Homo sapiens: one gene and its partners. The protein of the gene in region 2 purifies or fractionates together with the protein of the main gene of each other region. This does not show direct contact. Each region holds a gene or a part of one and is shown on either strand. Other genes may lie near its edges.

What was found.
Region 1: the proteins of NMD3 (region 2) and HMMR purify together in Homo sapiens (affinity purification with mass spectrometry; 2 studies listed by BioGRID and IntAct, with this or other methods). This does not show direct contact.
Region 3: the proteins of NMD3 (region 2) and TRMT6 fractionate together in Homo sapiens (co-fractionation; one large-scale study listed by BioGRID). This does not show direct contact.
Region 4: the proteins of NMD3 (region 2) and RFC5 fractionate together in Homo sapiens (co-fractionation; one large-scale study listed by BioGRID). This does not show direct contact.
Region 5: the proteins of NMD3 (region 2) and POTEF purify together in Homo sapiens (affinity purification with mass spectrometry; 2 studies listed by BioGRID and IntAct, with this or other methods). This does not show direct contact.
Region 6: the proteins of NMD3 (region 2) and RAD23B fractionate together in Homo sapiens (co-fractionation; one large-scale study listed by BioGRID). This does not show direct contact.
Region 7: the proteins of NMD3 (region 2) and ATF2 purify together in Homo sapiens (co-immunoprecipitation; one large-scale study listed by IntAct). This does not show direct contact.

Annotation. Positions count from the first base shown.
Region 1 is NC_000005.10:163,487,299-163,492,298, reverse strand, and holds the end of HMMR (hyaluronan mediated motility receptor), read right to left. Parts: intron 3,049-5,000; exon of another isoform or gene 2,916-3,048; intron 1,910-2,915; coding exon 1,747-1,909; intron 1,188-1,746; coding exon 1,135-1,187; 3' UTR 358-1,134; downstream 1-357. UniProt on the Homo sapiens protein: Receptor for hyaluronic acid (HA). Involved in cell motility. When hyaluronan binds to HMMR, the phosphorylation of a number of proteins, including PTK2/FAK1 occurs.
Region 2 is NC_000003.12:161,238,311-161,241,810, forward strand, and holds part of NMD3 (60S ribosomal export protein NMD3), read left to right. Parts: intron 1-419; coding exon 420-516; intron 517-2,735; coding exon 2,736-2,853; intron 2,854-3,500. UniProt on the Homo sapiens protein: Acts as an adapter for the XPO1/CRM1-mediated export of the 60S ribosomal subunit.
Region 3 is NC_000020.11:5,939,804-5,944,803, reverse strand, and holds part of TRMT6 (tRNA (adenine(58)-N(1))-methyltransferase non-catalytic subunit TRM6), read left to right. Parts: intron 1-550; coding exon 551-642; intron 643-772; coding exon 773-856; intron 857-1,120; coding exon 1,121-1,245; intron 1,246-2,017; coding exon 2,018-2,376; intron 2,377-2,767; coding exon 2,768-2,853; intron 2,854-3,458; coding exon 3,459-3,561; intron 3,562-3,664; coding exon 3,665-3,751; intron 3,752-5,000. UniProt on the Homo sapiens protein: Substrate-binding subunit of tRNA (adenine-N(1)-)-methyltransferase, which catalyzes the formation of N(1)-methyladenine at position 58 (m1A58) in initiator methionyl-tRNA.
Region 4 is NC_000012.12:118,025,792-118,030,307, forward strand, and holds part of RFC5 (replication factor C subunit 5), read left to right. Parts: coding exon 1-37; intron 38-1,097; coding exon 1,098-1,227; intron 1,228-2,161; coding exon 2,162-2,239; intron 2,240-3,979; coding exon 3,980-4,034; intron 4,035-4,516. UniProt on the Homo sapiens protein: Subunit of the replication factor C (RFC) complex which acts during elongation of primed DNA templates by DNA polymerases delta and epsilon, and is necessary for ATP-dependent loading of proliferating cell nuclear antigen (PCNA) onto primed DNA.
Region 5 is NC_000002.12:130,083,430-130,088,429, reverse strand, and holds part of POTEF (POTE ankyrin domain family member F), read left to right. Parts: intron 1-292; coding exon 293-363; intron 364-2,042; coding exon 2,043-2,087; intron 2,088-2,434; coding exon 2,435-2,616; intron 2,617-5,000.
Region 6 is NC_000009.12:107,327,585-107,331,289, forward strand, and holds part of RAD23B (UV excision repair protein RAD23 homolog B), read left to right. Parts: intron 1-1,958; coding exon 1,959-2,072; 3' UTR 2,073-3,705. UniProt on the Homo sapiens protein: Multiubiquitin chain receptor involved in modulation of proteasomal degradation. Binds to polyubiquitin chains.
Region 7 is NC_000002.12:175,118,900-175,123,899, reverse strand, and holds part of ATF2 (cyclic AMP-dependent transcription factor ATF-2), read left to right. Parts: intron 1-2,359; coding exon 2,360-2,456; intron 2,457-5,000. UniProt on the Homo sapiens protein: Transcriptional activator which regulates the transcription of various genes, including those involved in anti-apoptosis, cell growth, and DNA damage response.

The DNA of each region.
Region 1 (5,000 bases), on a different chromosome or scaffold from region 2:
ACCATTTTATTTTATTAGACAATTTTTCTAATTTCTACGTTTCTTCTGAACTTAATTTAAAAAACTGTATTTTAAAATTCAACCATGTATTAAGATCTAATAAAATAATAATGAAAAGCAATTCTGACTGATAGTCCCTGTTGAGCCATCAGTGAGAACACATTATAAAAAAGGTAGCTTATAAATATCATACCAATGATATGTGCAAAACAGGCATTTTAGAGAGAGATTTACCACTTTCCAAACAGTATCTTTTGTGATTCTGGGGACAAGGTGGTGTGGGTAGGGTAGAGATGATAAATACATCTTACATAGAAGCATGAATGTAACTTCATAAAATACAAGCTGAAAAATTAATTGGTTAAATGACTTACTGTGTAATTTTATTTCATATTACACAAATGTTAATCAAATGCTGAGTAGACATGCAGATGACAAGCAGTATATGACAAACTCTGAAGAAATAGTTACATGTAGAGTTTCTCAGATTTTTAGTGTATCTAAGAATTAACTGAAGAGTTTGTTAAGAATGCAGGCTTAAAGGCCAATCCACAGATTATAATTTCATACAAACAGGATGGAGCCTAAGAACCTGTAAATTATTAAACAACTGATTAAAAATAGAGAGGTTTCTATGAAGTTAGGCTTGTCCTTATTTCTTATTTGAACTGGACAAGTAGAAGGATAATAGGTAGGACCAAGTGAGCATTATCAGAATCAAAGTAGAGGCAATAACAAGCCAAGGTGTTTTAGCCTAGCTAAAGAAGCTCAGACTAGAAAAGACCTCCAGGATCAAGCTGAAGAATCTGGGGTTTAGACTCTTGAAACTAAGGTTTCAGAACAGGAGGATAATAATATGATACTGACTTTTAAGTTGATGAGATGCATTCTAAGCTGGAAAGCCAGCGAAAGGGTTCAGAATGAGGTGATAAAGGTGAGCATTAGGGAGGAGGTATTTGCAAGAAAAAATAAAATGTCAAAAGACACTTTGGTAAAAAATGTTCCTTTCACATATTTAAGGATTGGCAGTTAAAATTAAATACAACATTATAAAATACCCATGTCAAATATAATAACAGCAACATCAATAACAACAAGACGAATGAAATAATCTTCAACAGGTTTCTCAGATGTTTACTTCCATGATTCTTGACACTCCATAGGAGCTCGGTAACAGTTTGTATTGCCTAGAAGAATTATTGAAAAGAAGGATTAGTAATCTAGATTAAAACGAATTTATCCATCATTATAAACTAAAAACAGGCCTTGTATCTTCTTTAAGGCAGATGAAGCAATATATTCTGTAAGATAATTTTTAGATTTATCATTTCAACCAACTTTAATTTATCGTGAAAGACAAACATTCACAGTCAAGAAATAAGAAATTTACTTCTCTAAAACTACAAATCAGAAAATGATTAAGGACCTAAGAGACATTTAGGTTAAAATGCTAAGGGTATTATAGAGGGAGTAATTTGGGGTGTGTGGACAGGGACAAAATAGTCATGCAAAGCTTCAAGGAAGATTTGAGATTTGCCTTGAAGAACAGGCAGAATCCAGGTATACAGAAAAGAAAGCGTAGAAGGAGGAAGAAAACAGTCATTGTACACAACAATCTCAGTAAGAACTGCTTTTATCAGAAGGTGTCAACAAATTTTCACAGTTCATAAAATGGATGACTTGCTAAATGCTATAAAAGCAAATCCAAAGGAAGAGGACACTTTTATACATTTATTCATGTCTTACCTTCTTTTAATGGGGTCTTCAGGGCAAAATTTTCTTTACTTTCATGATGAAAAGCCTTTGAAGGATCAAAGTGTTTGATACCTAGAACTTTATTCAATTCCTCTTGAAGTTTTGTCTCACTTTGTTTTTTTTTAGCAAGCTGACAGCGGAGTTTTGATACTTCCTAGGTAAAAAGAAATAATAGGTAATAAACAATTATTAAAGAGTATGTCAGTGAAATGTGTTACCAATGTTGCGGGCAAATTCCAAAGTTGTTTATGTATTATCACACTCAACAGCAAAAATCACTACTAGACACAGGCTTTAAGACTGAATTACAAAATGACATGAAACAGCTGTGACAAAGGAGATACAGTCTTTTAAATCTCCTTGCCCCTCCTCAGCTACAAAGCTATTTTTCTGATAAAAGTTCAACTCAAAAGTAATTGCTGAGATGGACTTCTGGCATGACAGCATGAAAGTTCTGCTGACCTGCTCCCTAGTGAAACTAAAAGTTATAAAATATTAACCAGTTAAAGCCTCTGAAAATTGACCTAAGGGAAAAATAGCAAATGAAGAAACATCTATTCAAGAAAATCTGCAAAAATTTGGTGAAAAAGAGAGTCTGCAGTGTTTAAGCCAAAACTCCTTCCCCTCTTCCCACTCCCAGCTTAGCAAGGCAAAGTCCACGCCAGACGGCTACAGCCAAAAGCACAGGGCCCTCTTTTCCCCCAACTCCGAGTCAGAAGCTTCCCTCCCAGGAGGACCAGGACATCAGAGTTTCTCATTTTGTCCCCAGCTCCCTGTGGCTGCAGTTATATCCTGGACAAATGCAATTGTGAGGTGGGGGATCCCTTCCTCCAGTCAGCCCCATTCATGGAACAGGGGCTCACCTTGGGCACAGTGTGTTGAAAATGCTGGGCCCCGATGACTCTTTCTCTGGCTCATGAGGGGGATGGTTCTACACCAGGAGGTTACTCAAGAGGGCCTGAGGCTATTCCTCATCTCTTCCCCACAAGTCCACTGAAAACTCAGCTCCTAGGGCAGAGGATGTCACTCAGAGAGAAAACTGCCATTGTCCCCAATTTCAGCTCTAGTCCTGGCTCAGGGATATTGTCGGGGGAGGGGGAAAGGAGGGCGGAAAAGACAAGTAGGCCATAAAACAGGGAGCTCCTCATTTCTTTTCAAAGGAACTGACTTCACCTGCAACAGAGCTTGGAGAAGCTGAAGCCTAAGGGTGCTCTAAAGCAGGGGTCCCCAACCTCCGGGCTACAGACCAATACCCATCCAAGGCCTGTTAGGAACCCGGCTGCAGAGCAGGAGGTAAGTGGTGAGCCAGGAAGCATAAGCATTACCCCCTGAGCTCCCCCTCCTGGCAGATCAGCTGCGGCATTAGATTCTCACAGCAGTGTGAACCCTATTGTGAAATGCACATGTGAGGGATCTAGGCTGCATGCTCCTTATGAGAATCTAATGCCTCATGATCTGAGGTGGAACACTTTAATCCTGAAACCATCCACATAAACCCATCACAAGCTGGGTGATCCGGTCTGTGGAAAAACTGCCTTCCACAAAACTGGTCCCTGGTGCCAAAAAGGTTGGGGAACCATTAAAGAACAGTGGTGGTTATAGTGAGAGAGAAATGGGAGGAGATTTAAGATACAGGCTGAACAGTAGGCTAGTTAGTTTGCAGGAGAAAACTAGGGAATATGACAGCTGGGACGAGCCCTTCTGTAGTCAGAATAAATATCCAGCACTGCTCTCGTATGCAATCCCTACAAAGGAGCCAGAATTTGATTGGATTAGTTTATAGAGCAATTTATGCCCTAAGGCACTGTTGCAAATAATCAAGCAAGGAGCCAGCATCTACTGGAGTTTACAGTCACTATGTTCACGGAAAGAGAGGAAGGCAGCCCTACCAAAGCAAGTGTCATCCCAGGGTAATTGTGGGCACACCTAAAACTGTACCTCCCTGAACAGCAACATCAGAGGCACAATACTGTTGGGGTCTGGGGAGGTAGTGGGATATGTTTCCCTAAAATAATTGAGCCACTCATTAAGCAAACAAGCAAATAAAAAGCCCCCAAAAGGAGGGGGAGCTGTACCCAGAAATGCTACAATATATGATCTAAAAATTTACTTTCCAATGAAAAATTACAAGGCATGCCAATAAACAGAAAAGTATAACCTATACATTTGGACACAAGGAGAAAAAATGTCTGAGAGTAATCGGATGTTGGATTTTTCAGCCATTAAACAAGGGCTGAAAAACCACCTATTGAGTACTATCCTTACTGCCTGGCTGACGGGACCTGTCATACCCTAAACCTCAGTATCATGCAATGCACCCATGTAACAAATCTGCATATGTACCCCCACATCTAAAATAAAAGATGAAATTATAAAAAAGAAAAGTTCTTGGCCAGGTGCAGTGGCTCAAGCCTATAATCCCAGCATTTTGAGGCCAAAGCTGGTAGATTCCTTGAGCCCAGGAGCTCCAGACCAGCCTGGGCAACATGGCAAAACTCTGTCTCTACAAAAAGTAGAAAAATTAGCCGGATGTGGTGGCGCACGCCTGTAGTCCCAGCTACTTGGGAGGCTGAGGTGGGAGGATCACCTGAGCCCAGGGAGGTTGAGGCTGCAGTGAGCCGTGATTGCATCACTGCACTCTAGCCTGGTGACAGAGTGAGATCCTGTCTCTAAAAAAACCCAAAAACCAAACAAAAAAATAAAGTTCTTTCTCCACTAAAAATTTAAAAAAAGAAAGAAACTTAAAAAAAAAAGACTCAAATTACTAGAATCAGAAATAAAGAGAAGCCATTACTACTGACCTTACAGAAATAAAAAAAAGATTATAAAGGAATACTATGAACAATTATATACCAACAAATTAGGCACATTTATAGAAAGACATAAACTACTCAAGAAGAAAACCGAATCAAGAAGAAAGAGATAATCTGAATAAGCCTATATCAAGTAAAGATATTGAATTAGTAACCAAAAAATATTCACAAGAAAAACCAAGGTCCAGATGGCTTCACCAATAAATTCTACCACACATTCAATGAAGAATTAATACCAATTATTCAAAAACCATTCCACATAGAAAAGAGGGAACATTTCTCACTCATTTTGTGATGTCACCATTACCCTGATACCAAAATGAGACAGACATTAAAAAAACAAAAACAAAGCAAAGAAAACCTACAGACCAGTATATCTTAGGAATATGGCTGAAAAAAACCCCTCAGCAACATATAAAAATAATTATATGC
Region 2 (3,500 bases):
CAATCAGGAAGCATATATTGGGTTAACCACCCACTCACAGAGGTGGTAGGACTTGTGCTCCAAAGATCGGGAAATTTTCATAGCTGGAGTTTATATTGAAAGGTACTATTAGTGTGAACAAAGATTTGCAGTGGGCGTTAGTATGGCTTTTAATAATGCTATATAGAAAGTAGATTGGTCTGAGCCAACAGCATGTTCTAGAGGTTTGGTGGAAAAGGTTCAAAATAGGTAGGGCTTAGTTAGAATGGTGAAGGTTTTGACATGCAAGTGCAGGACAGTAGGTTTTACCAGAGGAGGCATCATGAAGCCATTTTAGACCTTGGACAATGATGGTTTGATTTAATGAAAATTGATATTCCTGAGTCCATACAGGTTAATGATCTTTGTCTTTATATTACTACTAACTTTTTTCTTAATAGATACAAAGCATCACAAAGACTGATCTCTCAAGATATCCATAGTAACACATACAATTACAAAAGCACTTTTTCTGTGGAAATTGTTCCAATATGCAAGGTACTTTTCTTTTTCATTTAATCCATATCTGTAAAAGAGTACAAGTAATTAATTGGCTTATATGTAATTTGTAGCTCCTGGTTTTCCTCTAGGGTTGGTTAAAAATTTAGAATAAGTTCCTTAAGTGACTTCTAACACATTCAGCCATGTTAAAAGATATATATTTTTAAAAAAGTCATGCTTATAATTATGAATTGACATGCCTTTTATTTTGGTGTATTAAAATGAAAAGACCTGGTTATAGTTGATAAAAGTCCGTATTCTTTGAAATTTGTGATCCTATGAGCCTGTATCATATAGTTCAGTGAAATTGAATAAAAGAAATGACATTAAAATCAATATTAGTGAGCCACTTTGTGGAATATGTACAAACAAAATTTTGGCAAGAAATGAAAGAATATTGTGATAATGTGAAAATGAGATCATAGAATCATTTTTATGATTTTAAAACATAAGCTGAATAAAACATTTAAAATGTAGATTATTTCATTTAATTGTACTAAGATAAAACTCTGCTTCAGAAAAATATGAATTAAAATTCAATAAATAGTTATTGAGTATCTATAGTATAGAAGGCTGTGTACTGAGGATTGTATAACTACAGGTCTCTGCCATGTAAGAATTTATATGTCAGTATTAAATCACTAAGAATGATAACTGCCATTATTGTGACCATTCTACATAAAGTTAATCTAGATACTTTAGTGTCTTTCACCTCATTCTCATCTCATAATAACTGAGGTAAGCCATATCATTTTGACGATGAGGAAATTGAAGTTTGAGGAGGTTAGATAACTTGCCCAAAGTTACATGATCACAAAATGATGAAGCTAGGATTTGCACCCAGGTCTGTGTCTCCAAAGCTTTAAAACTGCTATTGCTATTTTATAGTATGTACTAGGGATGAAATGATAGCTTAAAATAGGGTCAGCAAACTTTCTCTGTAAAGAGACAGATGGTAAATTTTTTAACTTTCAGGTCGTATAATCTCTTTTGCAGCTACTCAGCTTTGCTGTTGTACAAAAGTAGCATGGGTAATATGTAAAGGAATGTCAGGGCCGTGTTCTGGTAAAACTTTATTTACAAAAACAGATGGTGGGTCAGATTTGTCCTGAGGGTGGCATTTTGCCAACCTCTGGTTTAAAACAGTAAATGTTTCCCTGGTACAAATCTTGAGAAATATGAATTTAGGTGTGAGGGCATATTTAGGCCTTGTGTAACTGAGTTTTACACATGTAAAAATTAACATATGTATTAAACTATGTAAAAAAGTATATTTGTTTATCTTTGGAAACTCATGTATTAAAAACCAAGGACTGAACTAAGAGCTGTTATGATTGTGAATAGATACACCTTAAAATATAACTCAGATCTTTTTTGTATTTTAATTCAGTTTAAAAACAGATAATTACGTTGCTGCTTCATGTCTCCCAATATAAATGTAGACATGTGACTTTTTTGGGCTTAAATCTTTGATTGTATATTGGCACATGTAGCCATGTAAGAGAAATGTGTTCCTTTGAAGTTTATTTTTTAATGGAGATTGAAAGAAGTCACAGGTGGATTTATAGAATCACTCTCCTGCTAATGTTTATAATACTCTGTTTAGAATGTACACTGTATTAACATATAGAGTGATAAGAGGCATTCACACTGCAATAAAATGGAAATAATAATAGCTTGGTGATTTGGGCCCTGGATTTTTTTTTTTTTTTTGAGAGACAGTTTTGCTCTGTCACCTAGGCTAGAGTGCAGTGGCACCACCTTAACTCACTGAAGCCTCGACCTCCTGGGCCCAGGCTGTCATTCCACCTCAGCCTCCCAAGTAGCTAGGCCCACAGGCATGCACCACCACGTTTGGCTAATTAAAATATATATATATATGTATATGGAGACAGGGTCTCCATATGTTGTCCAGGTTAGACTTGAACTCCTGGGCTCAAGGGATTCTCCCACCTTGTCCTCCCAGATTGCTGGAATTACAGGAGTGAGCCAGCGTGCTCAGCCAGGATTTTTTTTTTTTTAAAGCATTTTTATTAAGACAAGATGCCTGTCATACTTAAGGTCTGATTCTTTTCTTTAGTCTCTTTGTTGATTGATAGAATTGAAAATAACGTTTTGGTTGGTCAAATGCAATTGGATTGGGTGTTTATTGATGAGTGTTTATTGGACTGTTATTTAGGATATGCCTCATTCTAAATGTTAGTTCTTATGCCTAGGATAATGTTGTCTGTCTGTCTCCAAAACTGGCACAAAGCCTGGGAAATATGAACCAGATTTGTGTGTGTATTCGAGTAACCAGTGCCATTCACCTCATTGATCCAAACACCCTACAAGGTAAATTCTGGAAATGATTTGCCTTGACAATTTTGTTTTGTATGACAAACAATAATAATTTGTGTTGTTAATTTTTCAAGCATTCTTGCTAATATTGTTTTGAAAGGTTAGTTAAAATTTGTGCTATTGTTTAATACAAAACATTGTGGAATTTGCAAGCTTTGATTAGTTACTTTTGTATTTTTTATTTAAAGAAACAATTCTGTTAATTTTTACATATTTACTGGTTTATTCCATTAATTTTTACTGAAATTGACTTTTTTTTTTTTTTTTTTGAGATGGAGTCTGGCTCTATTGCCCAGGCTGGTGTGCAGTGGCGCAATCTCAGCTCACTGCAACCTCCGCCTCCCAGGTTCAAGCTATTCTCCTGCTGCAGCTTCCCAAGTAGCTGGGATTACAGGTGCCTGCCACCATGCCCAGCTAATTTTTGTATTTTTAGTAGAGACGGGGTTTCACTGTGTTGGCCAGGCTGGTCTTGAACTCCTGACCTCGTGATCTGCCCGCCTCGGCCTCCCAAGGTGCTGGGATTACAAGCGTGAGCCACCATGTCCAGCCTGAAATTGACTTATTTACCTCATTTAATTTTTGTGACTATTTACTTAAGTCCATTGCCAAAATTTGGTGTCTAGCAGTTATTTTAAATTTTG
Region 3 (5,000 bases), on a different chromosome or scaffold from region 2:
TAATATTCAAAGGATTTTTAGTTTTGTTTTTGTCTGTTTGGCATTTAGGAAACTGTTGGGTTTTTAAAGCAGACTGTACCTAAGGTAAAACAAAAAAATAACGTTATAGCTTTGATAGAAATAGGTTGAAATGTACATGTTACTCAACATTTCAAAGATTTTATGTCTTATATACAGGAATATAAGTGAATGACATTACTAATGTCAGTGGTAGAGAATGTAATAACAGTGCATATCAGGATTTAACTTTGTTCATTTTCAGTAATGTTTTCAGCCAGTGTCTTCAGAAATTAGTTTCCTTTACCTCTCTTCTCCTTTTGTTGGATATCTCTGTTCTTTTACGTTGGTTTAAGTGGAGTTATAAAGTACTTGTATTTTATTATAAATTCCAAATAGAGTATAGAAATATAAAGTTCATCTATTTGGACTTCTGTGGAAAAGGGATTGGAGAATCAGACCATTGGATCCATTCTTGGGTAAGAAGCCTTTGGAAATTACTTGTTTTGTGAAAGTAAAGTTTCAGAAAATCTACTTGCTCCTTTTCTTATAGGAAATAGTTCAGCAGTTAATTGAAAATAGTACAACATTCCGAGACAAGACAGAATTTGCCCAAGATAAATATATTAAAAAGAAGAAAAAAAAGTAAGTAGTTTTTATTTTAAAAGGCCCACAATATTAAACTTCTTATATGTTTATAAAATATACATTTTATTACAAATAAAATATTTTAAGTCATTTTTTTAAATCAGCGTTCTGTTTTTTCTTCCCCCAGATATGAAGCCATCATTACTGTTGTGAAGCCATCCACCCGTATTCTTTCAATTATGTATTATGCAAGAGAACCTGGAAAAATTAAGTACGCTTTGTTTCCTTTCAAAAGTATAATTGGGGGAAATATGTCTTTAAGAAAGTCATGATTTTAAGTAAAATGAAAAAGCTTGCTCACCTGCATAAAGTATCCTCCTACCTCATAAATTGTAAGTCCTTTTACTGTCACCTCCAAAGCAATCAATAATCTTATCAACACAATTTTAATAAAGCAAACAAAACTTGAAAAATGATGATTAAAATAATAGGCTTTACTTAGCTAAAAATGAACAAATTATTGTTTTTACTTTAGCCACATGAGATACGATACACTAGCCCAGATGTTGACGTTGGGAAATATCCGTGCTGGCAACAAAATGATTGTGATGGAAACGTGTGCAGGCTTGGTGCTGGGTGCAATGATGGAACGAATGGGAGGTAAGATTTAATATTTCCATTTTCAACAAAACCCCACCCTGATGTGAGTAAAGGTGGTCCAAAAATGTAAACTCATGGAAAGCCAAATTGAATTACTTCAGGGTTAACAAAGTGACTTGGGTGAACCTGCACGGCTCCTAGCATGGGGACCTTCTTACACAGTCTCCATCACCCAGCCCCCCACCCATGGGTACCCCCAAACCCATGGCAATTGTCCTTTCTAGCTTCACTGTCAGTGGGCATGATGCTGGAGCCTGTGGCTGGCTAGGGCTTTCGGGACAGTGATTTTAGTAAACTCCTGGGTAGCTGGTGCTCATTTCATTGGGCCTAAATTGAAGGGATTGAGTGGGAAGATTACTAAGCATGTATTCTCTCTGGAAGAATACAACACAGCCTGATTTGTCTGGTTTTTTTCTGACCCCATAGAAGGTAAGAACTTGTAACTGCTCCATTTGAGGATCGGAGTGAGGGGAAGCAGAGTCCGTCACCAATCATGTGACATCCAAATTTGCAGACACAGGGTTTTACAATAGTATCAAGTGGGGATAAGCTTCTTTGAGTCTTCCTGCTATCTGCTTTAGAATTATATTACCTCCATTGGTAATACTCATAGACTCCAAACAGACTCCCTGAGGAGCTGCACCATCCTTCAGCCTCTGAATAAAGTACTAATAGAAAGACCTTCAGTCTCATTACTGTGGAGGACTCACTGAGGGTTTACGTAGTCTAGAGTCACTCCACGGGCAGATGTTTGTTTCTTTTATCTGTTCAGGTTTTGGCTCCATTATTCAGCTATACCCTGGAGGAGGACCTGTTCGGGCAGCAACAGCATGTTTTGGATTTCCCAAATCTTTTCTCAGTGGTCTTTATGAATTCCCTCTCAACAAAGTGGACAGTCTTCTACATGGAACATTTTCTGCCAAGATGTTATCTTCAGAGCCAAAAGACAGTGCTTTGGTTGAAGAAAGTAATGGCACACTGGAGGAAAAACAGGCTTCTGAACAAGAGAATGAAGACAGCATGGCAGAGGCCCCAGAGAGCAACCACCCAGAAGACCAGGAAACAATGGAAACAATTTCTCAAGATCCAGAACATAAGGGGCCTAAAGAGAGAGGAAGCAAAAAAGATTATGTAAGGATGCCAAGAGTCCCCACCACCCCCATAATCTCAGTCCCTCAGTTAACTTCAGTTAAGTCATGAGATTTAGTTTGGCTTTGGTGTATTAGCTCCCAAGATGATAACTATCAAAACAGAGAACGAGTGTGTGTACATGTATACAAACGTGTGATTCGGTCTTCGGGATGGAGCTTTAGGATACAGAAGCGTTGCATAGATAGCTTAATCATGGTTTTTATAGTATATAGGCTTTCTTGTGTATTTGCAACTTCCTTATAAACAACCTGCTTCTATTGGTTTAGTCCAAGTTGATAAATATTGTTGAAATGTTTTGACAGGCCAGAGCATTTCCATAAATTTGACTGAAAGACCCCAGTACATTGATTTCTTATTTTTCTTTTTGAAGATTCAGGAAAAACAGAGGAGACAAGAAGAGCAGAGGAAAAGACATTTAGAGGCTGCCGCTCTGCTGAGTGAAAGAAACGCAGATGGGTGCGTTGATGGAAGAAGGCAGGAGACTCCTCAGTGCATGTGGGCTCTGCTTCAGACAGATTGGCATTCTCTTTCTCCTTGTCTGCTTTGACTCTAGTGGGACCCGAGATGAGGATTTTGTCTTGGGGGTTTTTTTAAAGAAAGGAGGCTGAGGCTGGCAGGGGTGGGGAATTGATGATGCTGGTTTCAGGGTTTCAGAAGAAATTGAATCTTCTCCATCACTGCATCAAGATGGGCCCTGTGGTCCCACTGGATGCAGGGGATGGGGCACTCAAATGCTGCGATACAGGCTATAACAGATATCCACAAAGCAGCTTATGCAGTGTTGGATTTGTTTCCAGGTGATTTTTTTTAAAAAATCAAGAATGTCATTAAATGCGACTTAGAGTTGCCAAGTACCACAAGAGCTTCTAACCTAGTTCGCGTTTCCTAGAAAGAAATAGCTCATGATTGTATTCTGTTTTGGATTTCTAGAATGTTATATTTAAATCTCTTCTCTTTGTGAGTCATGCAAATTAAATACATGATCATTTTAAATGCATTTTAAAACCTGTGCTCCACTTTGAGGGTGTAGAGAAATAATTTGTCTGGCATTTTCCTTACAGTTTAATTGTAGCTAGTCGTTTCCACCCCACTCCCCTGCTGCTGTCTTTGCTGGACTTTGTGGCCCCTTCAAGGCCGTTTGTGGTCTACTGTCAGTACAAAGAGGTAATACTGGAATGGAATGGGCAGGAATTCTTATGTCTGAATGTTGATTCTTAAACTGCATCCCAGGAAGTAGTTCTTAACAGAATTCTGTTGTTGTCTGCAGCCTCTGTTGGAATGCTACACAAAACTGCGGGAGAGGGGAGGGGTCATCAACCTCAGGCTGTCTGAAACCTGGCTCAGAAATTATCAGGTACGTGTTCTTACAGCCAGTCCCAAGAGCTGCCCTCCCGAGACTTGACTTTCCTTGCAGTAGTACTAGAAGTCATTAAATAGAGTTATCTCAGCCAGGCACAGTGGCTTATGCCTGTAATCCCAGCACTTTGGGAGGCCAAGGCAGGCAGATCGCTTGAGCCCAGGAGTTCAAGACCAGCTTGGGCAACATGGTGAAACCCTGTCTCTACAAAAAAAAATACATAAATTGGCTGGGCATGACCCTGTATCTACAAAAAATATAAAAATCAGTCGAGCATGGTGGCAGGTGCCTGTAGTCCCAGCTACTCAGGAGCTGAGGTGGAAAGATTGCTTGAACCCTGGAGGTCGAGGCTGCAGTGAGCCGAGATCCCACCACTGCACTCCAGCCTGGGTGACAGAGTAAGACCCTCTCTCAAAAACAAAACAAAATAAAAATAGAGATGTCTCTGTTTCTTTCTACAGGGATGGAGATTTCTCATGGCTGTTACTCAGAGAATATGCCCCTGACTTTTTGTGACCCTTTTTTTCTCTTGTTATGTCAGAATATATTACTCTGTAACTCTGCCCTAAAGGCATTTAAAATGCAAACCATTATGGTTCTTATTTCCCCAAGGCCTCAGTATCACTGTGGATGATGTAATTGACAATAGCAAAATTCCCAGGTGGATGAGAAACTGGCCCTTTCCTCTCTGCCAGGATGTTTTTGCAGCAAGTTTTCAGGATTTACTGGTGGGCTCTGTGTCAGTTCAGGTCTTCTGGAAGACATATGCTAAGATGGAAGTTGAAGTGTAAGAGATTTATTGAGGGAAATGCCTTAGAAAGATAAGGGGAGAGGGAGCAAGATTGGTGGTGCAGGTTGATGCCTGGGCAAGGAGCGGGTAGAGAAAGGAGGATGGTAGGAAGAGCCTGCAGTGCTGCTCTGGAGAAAGTCTCCATGAGGCTGATGGCGAGCCCAAGTGGAAAGATCGCCATTCAAGGAGCCCTGTGTTAAGCAGAAATGCTCCAGCTCTGGTACCCATGCTCAGTTACTGACTGGAAGCAACCCATGGCCTCCCTCGGTATGAATGCTGCAGTGGATCCCAAAGGAGCGGCAGCTGGAGGTGTTCTACTGCCTGAATGCCTCTCAGCTGTTCCCTCATGAAGGGAGATCTGAGGGGAGCACCTCCATGCTGCCGTAGGCCCCGTCTCATTGCTTGGTGTCTTACCATACTGTAGTGGGGATGCTATTGAGCCTTGGGTAACCCTGC
Region 4 (4,516 bases), on a different chromosome or scaffold from region 2:
CAGTGGAGACATGCGTAGGGCTCTGAACATTTTGCAGGTATGGTCTCAAGCAAATCCTTTTTTTTTTTTTTTTTTGAGACAGAGTCTTGCTCTGTCGCTCAGGCTGGAGTGCAGCAACACAATCTCAGCTCACTGCAACCTCCGCCTCCTGGGTTCAAGCGAATCTCCTGCCTCCTGAGCAGCTGGGATTACAGGTGCCCGCCACCACGCCCTACTAATTTTTGTATTTTTAGTAGAGATGGGGTTTCGCCATGTTGGTTAGGCTGGTCTCGAACTCCTGACCTCAAATGATCCATCTGCCTCAGCTTCCTAAAGTGCTGGGATTACAGGCATGAGCCACCATGCCCAGCCTGGTCCCAGCAAATCCTGAGTCATTGTTTTGTAATAGTTTTTGAAGAAAGACCTAAGCAAAGGCATGATCAATCTGTAAATTTTGAAATCTACAGCTGGTAAGACCTTGGTCTCATAACCTGCAGGATTCCCCCTCCTCACTTTGTATTTTGATTAATTGAAAAAATCACTTGTTGCAGGCCAGGTATGGTGGCTCACGCCTGTAATCCCAGCACTTAGGGATGCCGAGGGAGGTGGATTGCCTGAGCCCACGAGCTGGAGACCAGCCTGGGCAACATAGTGAGACTCTGTCTCCACTAAAAAATCATGAGCCAGGTGTGGCGGTGCACACCTGTAGTCCCATCTACTCAGGAGGCTGAGGCAGGAGGGTGACTTGAGCCTAGGAGGTCGAGGCTACAGTGAGCCATGATCATGCCACTGCACTTCAGCCTGAGCAACAGAGCAAGACCCTGTCTCAAAAAACAAAGAGAGAGCAAAAGAAAATGTTTTAAAAACAAAAGGAATCATTTGTTGCAAAGAAGGCAAAGGGAGGGAAGGATTTGGCACTGGAATAGCCAACAGGCTGTGGCATCCTCTGATGAGGTGACTCTTCCGGTATTGAATATGTGGGTTCCCACTGCCTTGTGCCCATAGAACTTTGCTGCTCACCTGCATTGCTGCCTTGGCAATTTCTTCTTGGCTCCCTGCAGCTTGGTGGCAGCTGTGACAGCCACTGTGATCTCCCCTTTCCCCCTCTGTCTACACAGAGCACCAATATGGCCTTTGGGAAGGTGACAGAGGAGACTGTCTACACCTGCACCGGGCACCCGCTCAAGTCAGACATTGCCAACATCCTGGACTGGATGTTGAATCAAGATTTCACCACAGCCTACAGAAGTATCCTTTCTCATGACCTCCTGGCCACCGAGACCTGAAGGTGGCCCCAGGAGTTCAGGTTGCAGCCAGCACCCACACCTTGCTGGCAAAGGATGACTGGCTGCAGGCGACTCTGGTCAGCTTGTTGTGGGAGTGAGATGTCTGTAGGTGGAGTGGGTACTTGTCTTTAGCACTCCAGAGTTCTTCTTGGAGGGCTCTGACCTTCAAGTCAGGGTAAGGCTTGAAGCAGCTTCACTCACAGATGGGAGAAAAGCTTAGGCCTTGGCATTGAAGATGCAGGAATTTTCAAGTGGTCATGATAGTGATAGCTCTTGTGCTGTGAAATGAAAGGCTAGGAATGGTGACACAAAGCCTTTTTGGAAATGCATTTGGGGCTGGGTGTGGTGGCTCATGCCTATAATCCCAGCACTTTTGGAGGCTGAGGCGGTAGATCACTTGAGGTCAGGAGTTCAAGACCAGCCTGGCCAACATGGCGAAACCCCGTCTCTACTAAAAATACAAAAATTAGCCGGGCGTGGTGGTGGGTGCCTGTAGTTCCAGCTACTCGGGAGGCTGAGGCATGAGAATTGCTTGAACCCGGGAGGCAGAGGTTGCAGTGAGCCGAGGTCATGCCACTGTACTCTAGCCTGGGTGACAGAGGGAGATTCCATCTTAAAAAAAAAAAAAAAGAAAGAAAGAAAAAGAAAACGCAGTTGGCTTTATTCTCTACTAGAAGGAGTTACAACTCTATCTTTCAGAAAGCCCTTACTGAAGATGAAACAAAGAAAAATAAAGAATTGGAGTCCAACACGTGCAGCTTCAAGTTGAAAGAGAAACAGTTGTGTTGGGATTAAAAGCCTTACTTTAAAAAGTCTCTTGCCCGGGTTTGGATTCAAAATTCTCTGCAGTATGTTTGTTCTGGAACTTGTTCCCTTTGCCTTAACTGCTCCTCTAGATATTACAGAGTTGAAAACTCTGAAGGGGTTGGCACTGCATGATATCCTGACAGAGATACACTTGTTTGTGCATAGAGGTAACTTACATTATCCCCCAGCTGAGAAGCTGTGGAGAAGGTAGCCTGCTTTGGGGTTAAGGATGGTTAGGACAGGAGGCTTCATTCTTGAAGCAAAGAAACTAATGAATTGTAAATCAGACCCTTCTTGTTAGCAGTTCTGTCTTGCCACTGTTTAAAATTTTGTTCCAGAGCTGGGTACGGTGGCTCAAGCCTGTAATCCTAGCACTTTGGGAGGCCAAAGCAGGCAGATCACCTGAGGTCAGGAGTTGAAGACCAGCCTGGGCAACATGGTGAAACCCCGTCTCTACTAAAAATACAAAAAATTAGCCTGGCATGGTGGCGCACGCCTGTAATCCCAGCTACGTGGGAGGCTGAGGTGGGAGAATCATTTGAACCTGGGAGGTGGAGGTTGCAGTGAGCCAAGATTTGCCACTGCACTCCAGCCTGGGCGACAGAGCTAGAGTTTGTCTCAAAAAAAAAAACAAAACAAAACACAAAAAACGTGTTCCATAAACCCTCTTTTAATATCTAGAACTGCTGGGGAAAGTGAAAACTCCTGGAGGCTAACTTTATTTCCTCTAGGGGTTTATATTTTATAGCAGTAAGTAGTATATATTAATTCACATTTCTAAAAAAAAAAAAAAAGTCTGTCTATCTATCTGTCTATCTAGATATATATTCCCAGAAAAGAAAGAGAAGATATGTAAACCATGTAAACCAAAGCAGGCTTAAGGAAAACATCTTAAGTTCCACACTTGCCTGTACCTTCTACACAGAGAATTGGTTCTCAACCTTGGCAGCAGATAGGGGCACTCCAGACAAATTAAGTCAGCTTCTCGGAGGACAACCAGGCATCCGTATTCTCTAAGCTCCCCAGGTGACTTGTGTAGGCTTTCGGAGAAGCTCTTCCTTCCACAGTGGCCAACTGCAAGATGGAGACTTAACCGGGTCAATGAATGTTGGTTCTGCCCAGGCCTTCACAGGCCTCTTCCTGGCTGGCCCATGCCATGCCTTCTGCCCAAGGTATGGTTGGCTCAGGCCCAGCTCTGCACCTTGATTGTGGAAGCTGAGCATAAACCAACTTTAAAAAATCAGTTGTTTGTGCTTGGTTTTTAAATGGGGACAGGATCGGTATAGTGGCTGACGCCTGTAATCCCAACACTTTGGGAAGTCAAAATGGGTGGATCACTTGAGCCCAGGAGTTTGAGACCAGCCTGGGCAACACGGTGAAACCGCATCTCTACAAAAAGTACAAAACAGCCAGGCAAGGTGGCGCACACCTGTAGCCCCAGTTACTCAAGGGTCTTGAGGTGGAAGATCCCTCAAGCCCAAGAGGTCAAGGCTGCAGTGAGTCATGATCACGCCATGCCATGGCACTCCAGCCTGGGCAAGACAGTGAGACCCCGTCTCAAAATAAAGTAAAATATAAAATAAAAACAGCAAGTGGGAACTCAGCATTCAAGTTAACTTGTAGAGCTACCCAGCTGCTAAGAGCAGTGTGATCTTTGGTGCTCTTAGGATCACTTTGGTATCTGCTCATTTTCCTTTTTGTCTACCCTATAAAGCACAAAATCGAGTGGGTAAAAAGTATGAAACCAGCACTGTTTCTACTTTCTTAGAGGTCTGGTATCTAGTGAGCAGGCTGAGGCCTCAGGACTAGTTCAGTGTTAAGGATTTCATGTTGAAACTCATTTGTCCTCTGTGGGTTTTTTGACAGTAGAGAGTGACCTAACTCATTTGATTTTGTTTTTCCCTCAGTTGACTTTCCATCTTCAGTTCGAATACATTTATTGACCAAAATGGCAGACATTGAGTGAGTACTTCTTGCCCCAGTTTTAATTCTTTTCTTCCTTTTTTCCCCTGTTGTGAGTTATTTGTTTCAACTTTCTTGGTTTCAGGTTTTTTTCCTAAATCGTTCACATACGGTACAATCTAGTCTGGTGATATTGAATGGAATGTGGGGAAGGGTGTGAGCTGCTTAAAGAACATGGGGATAAATTCACAGGTCAAGTACAGATCAGTTACATATCTGAGATGAAGGCCTCTCCTTGGACCTCACAGGCTCGGCCCACATTGATTCTGAAAATGCCCTTGTTATTTGGGAGGCCTGCTTTGCTTCAACCACCCAGCTGTTATTAAGGCATTTTGGCATACTAAAGCATATTGGGGGGAAAAGTAAACACAAACTCAATTTTCTGCTTTGCCTGGTTCCGTAAACACTGTTATTAGCCCCCAGTGAAGCTGGCAGCTATCATTTAAGTAGACAGAGCATTGGGTTCAACATAGACGTCAGCA
Region 5 (5,000 bases), on a different chromosome or scaffold from region 2:
CTACTGTATTTTAAAGCTGTGTTTCTGGTGGTTTTGTTCATGGATGTTGGGTGGATGAATTTGTGAGGGAATTTTTGACATGTTTGTTTGTCTTCAATCTGGTGACATCTGCTATCTCCCCAAGTGGGTTTTTGAAGTTTTTGAGAATTATTTCTTAAATGACAATTTCACAAAAGATGAAACACTCAATTTATGAAATAAAATGAAATGTCTCAAATCTGTTTTTAAAAGGCAATAGTTTTTAACTGTTTTAAGTGGTTGATTTTAACTGAATGTATGGATTTTTCAACAGAACAAGACTTAAAGCTGACATCAGAGGAAGAGTCACAAAGGCTTAAAGGCAGTGAAAATGGCCAGCCAGAGGCATGGAAACTTTTAAATTTAAACTTTTGTTTAATGTTGTGTTTTTTTTGCCTTAATAATATTAGATAGTCCAAATGAAATTACCTTTCAGACTAGGCTTTGAGAATCAGTAGATTGTTTTTTTAAGAATCTTTTGGCCAGGCAAGGTGGCTCACGCCTGTAATCCCAGCACTTTGAGAGGCTGAGGCAGGTGGATCACGAGGTCTGGAGATCGAGACCATCCTGGCTAACATGGTGAAACCCCGTCTCTAGTAAAAATACAAAAACTTAGCTGGGCGTGGTGGTGGGTGCCTGTAGTCCCAGCTACTCGGGAGGCTGAGGCAGGAGAATGGCATGAACCCAGGAGAGGGAGCTTGCAGTGAGCCGACATCCACCACTACACTCCAGCCTGGGTGACAGAGCGAGACTCCATGTGAAAAAAAAAAAAAAAAAAATTTTAATAGATTCTTAAAATTTATTGTAATAAAATCAGCAACCTTATTAACAGAAGAATCAATAGATTCTAATTTAATATTTGATATTTAACTTCAACATAACCCACTATAAAATTTAAAATACTCTTATTTTAAAATATTCTTATCTGCCTTCTTGATTAGCTTATAGCTAATCTCTCCTTTTGGAATAGAGGCAAAAACAAATTTCAGAACTTTGTTTGTTCTTTTATTTTTACAACACCCTAACATGATAAAGAAAGTAACATCAATGATTGAATCATATTATTAAGCAATAGGAATTATGAACAATGTAACACTGATTCCCTGAGCTGGATTCATGGTTAAAGAGTAATCATGGCCTGTGATTGAAAATCCACAGTTTTATATTGTCAGTCACTGATACCAAGGTTAAGGACATATCCTGCCTTGTGGTCTCTCGTTGACCTCAGTGTTTCTGTTCAGGGAGGGAACCAGGTCATAAAAGCAACCCAACTGCCTATTACAAGAACCATATCTTGCAGAATGGGACCTTTGGTGTTAGTGCACAAACACAATAACATTCTAATTTATTTCAGTTGCAGAAAATCAGTAGAGATTAAAAAATTTTATCTGCTGTCATTAGTACACATTAGAATATATTAGAACTGGACTTACGCAGATAATCTGGATACATAACACTATCATATGACAGTATATAATTTCAATTAAAATGTGAGAATTTGCATTTCTTTCTGTTTGGTGTTGATTTCGGCTCCTAATAGTTTAAAGGGTGCCTACAATCCAGTTAGGAATCTTTTAAAAAAGCACTTCAGTGCACTGTAGGTGCTCACTAGTTAGGGTTTCATGAGGTAAACTCTTTTCAAGTGAGGAAGATTTTGGAACACTACAAATCATCTGCTGATTCATTTTTGGTAGATTTAACACATAACAAATTAAATTTAGTCCAAACAAATAGTGAGAAAGTTAAGTTTGCTGGTTCATGTTTTTCTTCTCCCTTTGTCTAAGGTGAATTATTTTTCACATGTTAGAAGCCAGTGATGTGGCAGTAGCTAAACATAGATTAAAAAGTTAATTCTTAATTTTAATTATTATTTATTTTAACAGTTTAATTTTAATTACTTTCTAATTTTTATTGTCCATACTTGATTACTTCAGAATAAAATTATTTTAAAAACATGCACTCCAAAAGAGGAAATGTCACAGAAATACAACAAGCAAATTAACCTTCTGTTTTTACATCTGCAGAAAAGATCTCAAGAACCAGAAATAAATAAGGATGGTGATAGAGAGGTATACCTTTATATTCAAACGTTTGTGTTGAATTAGATTTTTACATTATGTTGTTTAACAAAGTGTAGTAAATGTAGGCATACATGATCCTATCATGTAAGTAGCATAAATCATCAGTGAAAAATTAAATAGTTAACTCAGAATTCTGTACATTGAATTTTGAAGAGGTGCAAACCCTAGAGCTATTCTTTCATTATTATGGAATAATCCCGAATGGTGCCATAAAATGCTAGGTAATGCCACTTTAGGAGCTTTAGACCAATTATTTTATCTTTCTTGGTTTTAGTCTGATTATCAATAGATAATGTGCCTAAAGTAGATAATTTCTTATTCTCTGTATTTTCCAGCTAGAAAATTTTATGGCTATCGAAGAAATGAAGAAGCACAGAAGTACTCATGTCGGATTCCCAGAAAACCTGACTAATGGTGCCACTGCTGGCAATGGTGATGATGGATTAATTCCTCCAAGGAAGAGCAGAACACCTGAAAGCCAGCAATTTCCTGACACTGAGAATGAAGAGTATCACAGGTAAGCCTATGGCAACATTGAACAGGAGGTAACTTTGTGCTGCCAAACTAATCCTAATTTGAGCTAATATTCATGATGAACAAATTTTATACTTTTATTAGGATATTGAGCCTTGCCTGTTAATCAGAAAAATGAAAATCAGCAAACAATCAGTTACCGTTTTTTTTCCAGTCATTAATTTATTTGAAAAATAACCAGTATTGGCAAATGTGAGGGAAAAGACATTTTCTTCTCTTTTCAGTGAACTTTTATTTTAGCTTCGGGGTACGTGTGCAGGTTTATTATATAGGTAAACTGTATCATGGAGGCTTGGGGTACAGATTATTTCACCAGCCACATAGTAAACAAAATACTCGAAAGGTAGTTTTTTGGTCGTCTCCCTCCTGCCATGCTCCTCCCTCAAGTAGGCCCCAGTGTATGTTATTCTCCTCTTTGTGTCCATGAGTTCTCATGTTTAGTTCCCACTAATGAGTAAGAATATGTGGCATTTGATTTTCTGTTCCTGCATGAGTTTTCTTAGGATAATGGCCTCCAGCTCCATCCGTGTTGCTGCAGGGGAAATGGTTTCATTGAAAAAGACATTTCATATACTGTTGGTAAATACATTTTGAACATTAATTGAGTAGCATATTCACACACACATATATAACAGTAAGCATATATAATACATGTAAAGGATATTTGTATAGATATGTTATATGTATACTTATGTATAAGGACATTTATTATAGTATTATGTAAAAAATTTGGAGCTAGTCTAATTCCTTATCAATAGGAAATAGCTCAATTTCCATATCCCCAAAATAATGTATTATGCAACCATTTTTAAAAAATGAGGTTAGATGTAGGGTATACTGATTATTTCACAATTAAAATGTATTTAAAGCGTTTAGTTTGATGACACATCTTAAGAGTTCTTGTTAAATTTCTTGTAATATCTGCTGTGTTGCAAATGGAAGCTACATGCTACATTGACACTGTACCTTGTTAGCAACAAGATTGCTAGTTACTAAATTTTTGTTGTCAGTGCCTGAGTGCTGAAATATTGGACCCTCAATCTGAATATTGCCAAGCGATTGTACATGGGGATCTATATTTAATATAAACATTTCAGTATATTTGGTAAAACTTTTATTAAAATACATCAAAGAATCTTTGATCTACTAAACCAGGAGTTGGCCAGCTTTTTCTGCAAAGAGCTAGTTAGTAAATATTTTAGGCTTTGTGGACTACATATATTGATTTTCTTGAGACAGGGTCTCACTCTGTTTCCCAGGCTGGAGTGCAGTTGTGTGATCATGGCTGACTGCAGCCTCGACTTTCTGGGCTCTAGTGATCCTCTGACCTCAGTCTCTACTAGCTGAGACCACGGGTGTGCAACATCACACCCAGCTAACTGACACTATGGACTGTAAAGTGAATAAGCATGGCTGTGTTCCAAGATACTTGACTTACAAAAACGGGCAGTGGGCTGGATTTGGCCCACAGGTGCTTATTTGCTGACCCTTGTGCTAAAAGGAAGGTGCTGCTAATGCAGTGACTTTTATTTGTAAAAGTGCCCTGCATGTGTGACATTATCCTCCCTTTGAGAAAAGGATATATTTCAGTATTTACCTCACCATATTTTTCCAGTGACTTCATATGATTTTGAAAACTACATTTATAAAATAAGATTATTTTCTGCATTTCTCCCACTTTATTCCTGTTAATAGAACTCAGTATTTTACTGTGATCAATTACTTCGTATATTTGATGAGTGTCAACTGTCCTAGAATTGGCTGATTTTTATCAAGCAAGAAATATTCTCCTTGAGAGTTTTAGTATTTCTTGGTCTTTATGTATAAGCGTGAACAAAATGATAATCAGCTTATGTAATCTAGAAATGTTCAAAGGGCCTTTAAAACCTTGGTCTGACATTTCTAAATGCCATATGTGTATAATTTTTATAACCTTTAGAATATATAATGGTTACATAAAATTTGAAAACTCCACCTGGTATGTAAAATTTGGAAGCTACTATTTCTTGTCTATCACTTTTCCATGACTGTGGATGAAAATTACATCATTCTCAGTCATGAGCGTTAAGTATATTGTCCTTAAAGAACTGTCTACACTCATGAACTCAAATTTTCTTTCCATTCACTCTTGATCTCAATGCCGGTAAGTCTTCAATTTCAGCACTCCTCCAGAACTATTTTTCCTCAAGATTATCACTAATTTTTTTCTGTACTAAATCTAGGCATTTTTCTTACACCTCATTTAATCTGTCAGCAATATTTGAGCCAATGGAGGGCATCTCCTCCCTAATGGCGTCTTCACTTGGCTTTCAGGACCTCACTCCCTCAGGCTTTTCCTCCTGCCTTTCTAGTCCGTTTATCATGGTC
Region 6 (3,705 bases), on a different chromosome or scaffold from region 2:
CTTTCGATTTCTAAATTCATTCCATTATAATCAGAGAATATACTTTCAATACTTTTCAACTTATTGAGGTTCGTTTTGTGGCCTAACATGGTATTTCTGAAGAATGTTCTATGTATACTGAAGAAGAATATAGTGTAGTTCTTATTAAGTGGTCTATAAATATCTGATAGATCTAGTTTGTAGTCAAGTCTTCTTCCTTAGCTGTTTTATCTATTATTGAAGGTGGAGCTGTAGTTGTCTCTATTATTGTTAATTGCCAATTTCTACCTTTAATTCTCAGTTTTTATTTTATGTATTTTGTGGCTCTGTTATATATAATTGTTGTGTCTTCCTGAACCCTTTTTATCATAAAATGCCTTTTGTCTATAGTAACAATTTTTATCTTAAATCTGTTTCCTCTGATATAGCCATTCTAGCTCTTTTTTGGTTACCATTTGCATAGTATATACCTTTTTCTATCATTTTACTTTCAACCTACTTGTGTCTTTGAATCTAAATTGTGTGTTTTGTAGAAGCAGGCAGTTGGATTGTACCCTTTACTTCACCTATCCTAGCTTTAATCTGGATAAAACCCAGATAACAAACTGATTTTTTAGTTTCTTCTGCTTTCATAGATGAATAGTTATTCGTGATGAATTGGGATTTTTGCCCAAATTTTAAGGGTTATTTCCAAATATAATCTGACACAGCAGTCTTTAACCTTTTTGGCACCAGGGACCAGTTACGTAGAAGACCTTTTTTTCTACCAACATAGGTGGGGTGGGCGCAGTGATTTTGGGATGAAACTGTTCCACCTCCGATCATCAGGCGTTAGTTAGGTTAGGAAGTGGGGTGGGGCGGTGGTTTTGGGATGAAACTGTTTCATCTCACATCATCAGGCATTTGTTAGGCTATCATACGGAGCACAGACCCTAGATCCCTCTCATGCACAGTTCACAGTAGGGTTCATGCTCATATGAGAATCTAATGCCGCCACTGATACAACAGGAGACGGAGCTCAGGTGGTAATTCGAGTGATGGGGAGTGGCTGTAAATACAGATGAAGCTTCACTTGTTCGCCCACTGCTCACCTCCTCCCGTGCGGCCCAGTTCCTTGCTCACCCACTGCTCACCTGCTCCTGGGCAGCCCAGTTCCTAACAGGCCAATGGCTGGTGCCAGTTCACGGTCTTGGGGTTTGGGACCTGTGATCTAACTCAAGGTGATTGAGACAATTGAGGAGGGTGACATTTGGCTGAGTTTTTAAAGGCTTTTAAAAGGAGTGAGTATTGTCACAAGTGATTTTTAATATAATAGACTAGGAAAATGAAATTAAGTAGCTGGTATTACCATTTAAAATGCTGTAACTGTTAAGCAGATAAAAATAGAACATTATCTTCAAAATGTACCATGTATTACTAATAATTGGTCACCTGTTTTTCTAGTATGGAGTGTTGAATAAAGCAAGGAGATTGAGAGTGATGTTTGATCCAAATGAAAGACATGAGTTGACATTAATAAATAAAACATAATTTGCTTTTAATTTAGAAATAGGTGAGGTGGTTAAACTATACTGCAGGTACTCTCATCCTTATCTTCACTCTTAATATACTAAAAGCCATTTGATTTACATATTTCTGTAGAGTCATTTATTTTTAAACCATAGCAGTTAGCAGCTAATTTTTAATTAGGCCAAAGAGTATTTGCATAGTATCTATTAAGCTTTAACTAGAAACAAAGACTTTTTTAGGTGATTAGTAAAGGAAAGGGTCTAGATTCCATCTAATCCCTTGGGTTGGGCAGTAAATCCATATTGATAGAGATGAATTCATGTAAAATTCTCAAGAGCTTTTTTGGGTTGCAGTATGTTTTTGAGTAATGATTTATCTTTAGTGCTATGCTGGAATCTATAATATGTAAATAAAATTAAATGTGCCATAATTGGTGTGTTGGATTTATATTTTTTTCCTTTTTCTTCCAGTTAAAGGCATTAGGATTTCCTGAAGGACTTGTGATACAAGCGTATTTTGCTTGTGAGAAGAATGAGAATTTGGCTGCCAATTTTCTTCTACAGCAGAACTTTGATGAAGATTGAAAGGGACTTTTTTATATCTCACACTTCACACCAGTGCATTACACTAACTTGTTCACTGGATTGTCTGGGATGACTTGGGCTCATATCCACAATACTTGGTATAAGGTAGTAGATTGTTGGGGGTGGGGAGGGAGGGATCTAGGATACAGGGCAGGGATAAATACAGTGCATGTCTGCTTCAATTAGCAGATGCCGCAACTCCACACAGTGTGTAAAATATATACAACCAAAAATCAGCTTTTGCAGGTCTTTATTTCTTCTGTAAAACAGTAGGTAACTTTTCCTAGGTTTCACTCTTTTTAGTGTACTAGATCCAGAAACTTAGTGTAATGCCCTGCTTTATATTTCTTTGACTTAACATTGGTTTCAGAAAGAATCTTAGCTACCTAGAATTTACAGTCTCTGTTTCATGGCAACACTGGATAATGGCTTTGTGAAATTTAAAAAATTTTTGTAGCGACTGTAAACAGAAATGCCAAATTGATGGTTAATTGTTGCTGCTTCAAAAATAAGTATAAAATTAATATGTAAGGAAGCCCATTCTTTCATGTTAAATACTTGGGGTGGGAGGGGAGAAAGGGAACCTTTTCTTAAAATGAAAATAATTACTGCTATTTTAAAATTTCTTGATCATTGAATGTGAGACCCTTCTAACATGATTTGAGAAGCTGTACAAGTATAGGCAGAGTTATTTTCCTGTTTACATTTTTTTTTTGTTTTGGGGAAAAAATTGGTAGGTGTCTAATTACTGTTTACTTCATTGTTATATTGCAGTAAAAGTTTTAAAACAACCATTGCATGTTTGCTTTTGATGTATCCCTTTGTGAAATTAGCACTTTTGGGGCCAATGGAGAAATGCAGCATTCACTCTCCCTGTCTTTTCCCCTTCCCTCAGCAGAAACGTGTTTATCAGCAAGTCGTGAGTCAAACTGCTGCCTTTTAAAAAACCCACAAAATGCTGATTCAGTTCAAAATTAATGCAAATGTTTCAAAACTGGGTTTCTGATATTTGTAAATGTGTTTCTTTATTAGATAAGAGTGTATTACCATTAAAGTCATTAGTATAATATTGCTTTCAAAAAGAAATGGTAGACAAAACTATAATCCAGCATCTTTTATTGCATTGGAAAGACTGGCAAAGTCTTTTGGATGGGTTGGGAGATGTGGCTGGAAAGTACTTTGGAAAATATACAATCAAGATATCTCATGGCATATTAAAAGAAAAATCTTAATAGCAGTGTTGGCTTTTATTTGGATTTTTTCATCTCAGTTTTTTCTGTGGAATCTCCTTCATTGGCATTGTTATTTAATCATAAACGGGGCAGATGTCTACTTGTTCAGTTTTTCAAATCTGTTTTCCTGAGTATAAATAAGAGTATTTAAAGAAATAATTTGGATTGCTTTTGTTTTTTGTTTCCTTTTTTTTAACCATCTGATACTAAGAAGATGAATTTGCACAGATTTCTCTGCATAATTTCTCAATATCTTTAGCACAGTATGGTGATGATGACTTTTAAGCATTTACATCACGTACTCATAACCTATTATGAAAATAAATGAAACTGGCTGGGTATGGTGGCTCATGCCTATAATCCCAGCACTTTGGGAGGCCGAGGTGGGCAGATCACTTGAG
Region 7 (5,000 bases), on a different chromosome or scaffold from region 2:
TCAAATTCACCTGTATCAAGTGCCAGTGTATTTTGTCTTTTGCAGTGTTTTTGTATTTTGAGTGTATTTTGTCCTTTGCAGTGTTGCTGTCCCTGTATATAATTAATACTGTTACAGGATCAGTAATCCCTTTGTAAATTGCATTTAGGGAAATTTGATCTGTGGATCTTATATGAGAGTTTATAAATACATATTCCTTGCATTCTCCCTTTTAATATTCATATGATCCTAAATATTTGTTAGGTTGCTTCTGGCCACTTCTTTACACTTAGGATTGAACTTGGTGCCATTTCGTATGTTTTGTACGAACACAATGTTATTTATTCTACATGCAGTTCTTTGATTTGAATATTTGGGGTCAAACTAATCCAAGCAAAGAAAATTGATAGAATAAAATTCCTAGGCGACAACATTCCAACTTCTTATCTATTAATTTGTTGAGTTTGCAGTTTTAAAATCTGGGACCTGCACCAAAATGCATTCATTCACAAATGTTTAATGATTGCCTTCAGTGGAAAAGCCACATTATGAGGTTCTTTGAAACATAAACTAAATATTACTTTCAGATGCTTTTAGTGTAGGATGTAAGACACATATATTTAAAACAGCAATACAAAGAAAAAGCATAAAATATTAATGTCAGTATGCTCTGCAGATATGTTCGTTTTCTGAGAACTTTGTTATTCAGCAATCTGTCAAAAGTACCACTGTTTCTTATTTCTCCAAAATTGGGGGAGATTCTTATAATGATAAAGTAATAGGAAGACAGTACCTGGGTGGGGAAAAGTTTGATTGTGGTCCTACTGCCTATAGTTGCTGCCCAGTAAATGTCTGAAGAGTGAATGAATATGTCAAGTAGTGGAAGTGTTGTTGCATCTGAACACTCTCCTTCAGTGGTAATACAGGCAGGTTCTGAAGAGAGGTTATAAAATAATAGTTTTCTGTTGGCATGTGAAGTAATCCAAAGACTAAGTGATAAAATGTAGCAAGATTAAATTGAAGTTGAATTCATCTTAATGAACAATGGTTTAGGGTCTTTTTTAGCCCCCTCAGATTGATCTTTAAGATTCATCTATTTTATTGTAATGAATTCATTCTTTCAGTTAGCATTTATTGAGTACTTAACTATATGCTAAGTTTGGGGGACCACGGTAGGAGCTCAGCCTACTTAAAAGGACAGACATATGAAAATATGATAGGTGCTATAACCAAGGCATTGTGCCGCACACATGAGATGATTTTCACCTCTACAGGCAGACGGATAGTGGACTGGGCCAAAGATGTTAAAATGTTAAAAATGTTTCATTCTTTTACATTGTGTTTAAGGTAACCCTAAAGCTACTATTATTAGTTGCATGAAAGGATGTAGTGAATTGGGTAGGGGAAGGAGACCACAAGAAATGGAATTCATTTTGATGGTTTGGGCAAACCAAGTTCAAGTATATATATTTTAACATCCTCACTTGTAAGGTTATAAAGAGTGAATTGAGATCTGTTAACTTAGCATTTTAAAATTATTGCTCTGAAATAACAGCTCCCTGTTTTCAGTTATAAATGTTGCTTAATGAGCATCTTCAAAAATGTTGATGTTCAGACATTGGAGATAATGCATTTATTATGTTGTAATCATAAATGTTACCTTTGGCATGCAAAACTTATCCAAGTTAGAGGTAGGAAAAAATATGATGGATAACTTTAAAAATAAAATGTTCTAAAAACAACTTTGCTCCATTTTTATGTAAGAACTCTCATGAAAAAATTATTTTGGCTACTTTAAATTTTTTTATTTTAAAATGAGCTGTTTTGTTATTGTATCGGTTGCTATTTCTTTGCTGGATTAAAACAAAGGCATTCTTTTTTATGTGGTAACATAAAAATCAGATTTATTTCTAAATTTTGTCCAGGCGTAATACTTTTATAAGAAAATTCTCTTTTAAAAAGTGGTAAGTAACCTTAAGTCTAGGTAAATATTAATACTACAGTACTTTCTTGAAAAGTCATTGAACCATGGAGTATAGTTTCTACTATGATAAGACAAATTAATGGTGGTCTATTTTTAGTATCCATAAGAAATTTATATAAAGTTTCTTTGCCTCCAATTTTATTTTTAAATGCTCTCAAATGAGTTATGTGACCTAGCAATATATCAGTATTGCTTATTCTTGAGTAATAGGTTTCTCTGTGATTGTTTGCAATCTAGTGTGCTATCTACTAACAATAACGGATTCTTTTATAGTTTAAAAACTGCTATTTCACTGTTAATGGTGGTTTTACATGTTGTGGAAATTAATTTCCTAATCATTTTACTTATTTGATCAAATTGAAAATCTTAACTATATTTTAAAACTTTTTGCCACAGCGTTTTACCAACGAGGATCATTTGGCTGTCCATAAACATAAACATGAGATGACACTGAAATTTGGTCCAGCACGTAATGACAGTGTCATTGTGGCTGGTTAGTATATGCTTTTATTAATAGCTTGTATACATATTTCACCTGGAATGTGCACAATTTTTGTGTATTCTCTGTAAATAATATAGTCTGGTGATATTCCAATGACTTCATTATAGTAAATGTTGGCAACATGTATTTTACCCATTACATTTTCATGTTTCCTTCTGACTATTCATTTCATTTTTTTGTGTGGTTTTCAAATTTATATTCCAATGTCGATTTTGTGGAAGTTCATTAGAACTCTGGGAACATTCATACCATCTACAAATTTTACATTTAACTAATAATTGAACTAACATGGTATTTAGTCAGCATTTCTTTTAGCTGTCTTGTACAACTGACTTACAAGGCTGTGTGAAGATAGAAAATGATCAAGCTTCTCCCATTGGAGAAAGAACAGTGAGCAGACTTGTTCATTAGAGTTGTTTATATTTCTTTTCAGACTAAACATTTGTATTAGTAAAATATTCTCAGTAAGGAGGCTCTAAATTCAGTCAATGCAGTTTTTGTGTGTTGACACTATGAACGTACAGTATCACCTAAGCAGATGATTATTTTTCACTGTATGTGAAAAGAAAAACCCAGTTCATACATTGGTTGATTGTCATTCCATGCTGTATTAGCTGCCTTTTTTTGGTATTTAAATATATACACACACACATCTATGTATATATACATATATGTCATGTATAATTTTGCTACTTTTTTGTATATTTTATAAGTATTATGATAAAACAAAACTATATAAATTTCAGATCCTTTGTGTCATCACAGATTTACATATCATAAATATTCAGATTAACTCCAGATTTTTCTTTTCTCTTGTAAAGCTTGTTATATGTCATATAAGTCTGGAATTACACCCAAATACTGTAATACTTTTAAATTATTAATCAGTATAGAGACCAAATTGTTCTATGCAGTGTTTTGGATAGATAATAAAGCAAATATTCGGTGGTTTTCCCTCTACTTACAGTATTGAAATTTTTGTAATGAAGAAATTGAAGGTAACAAAGTTAATTTATCGAAAACAATATACGTAGGAAAAATGTAGGGGAACTTCCAACATATCCTAACTAAGTTCCATAAGTAACTTAGAGATATGTTACTTATACAGAAGAGTGAGATAATGCTTTTTTTTTTTTGGAGTATTTTACATTAGACATTAAGAGCTAGAACCAAAGGAACCAAACAAGCAAAATAGTAACAACCTCGAAAGTTCACTCTCCTAGGCATGAAGCTCTTTGTTTCTCTGAAACTTTCTGCCTTAGCACAATCTCTGTCTGTGTGTAACTCTTTAACTCAAATATGTTTTGAAATTGGTTTCTAGAAATTACTTTCCTGTCTGATCACATTTAATGCAGTAGAAAAATAGAGCACATTCAAACACAGTACTTGACCTTTTTTTTCACTAACATGTTGAGATGAATAGGTTAACATTACTATGCAAATAAAATGCATGATGTGTGTGGTATATTTTTGGTGATCAGTAGCCATATGCAATGTGCATGTTAAATGATTGTGCCTATGTTGACTTTTCTGAAGTCTGATGGTTCCAGTAATCATTGATAAAAGTGACTTATGCTTATGTATTTTATTTTTTTAAGATTTTCCCCTCCCTTTAATGTAAGTTAAGAGCCTTCTGATGAACTTAGATAGACAAACCCTTTGGGTGTGAACAGAAGAGTCACATTTAGATTTGACCTACTAATTTAGTCATGATGGACTTAAGCTAATACATGTACTTTACTTACTGTAATGTGATTTTTGAGATCTTTTGGGAGGTGGGAATTAAGGGATAGGCTAGAAACTAGTAAAATTATGATATAATAGAGTCCTTTTAGTAATTCTGATATTACTAACAGTGCCTGAAACAGGCCTGCATTATGTCTAGTTTTGTATTACAAGTGGGTCATTTTAGTGTGAAATATATTTGTACATAGTAAAAATACTAGTCCTCTAGGTATACATGTGGGGGGCAAAGGTAAAATAGGAAGTAATGCCCTCTGTGGGGACATAATGGTTAACAAATATGTAAATTTTAATCTTACAAAAGGAATTAGGAGTATTTTCTCTTAAACCAAGAGTCTTCCTTAGTAGAGTACTTTTACTTCACTTAGGCTAGATCCCTGCTATAGCCTGTAAAATTGGTGCTCTAAAATATATTAAATGTGAATAGAATTTGAATGTGCTACCAACTCTAATCAATATGAATAGACACCCTTGAAAATAGTAACACTAAATAGGCAGAATTTATAAGTTTCTTGCTTTTCATTCAGTGTAAATCTTACCTGGCATTTTTTGTAGCCTATACATGGACACTGAGTACCTATGTTAATGTACATAGTAGGAGTACATATTCGAGTAAAGTTGAAATGTTTCATGTTGTAAGAAAATAGAGTAGACTCTTTCTTTACTCCTTAGGAATTAAGCTAGAACATTCTGGAGGCATGTGACTCACACATATTCCTTGTACCTAGCTTGTAAAATGCATTAAATTAGAAAATTAGTTTCAGTAGATAGTGGTAAAAAGAGGGTTTGTTG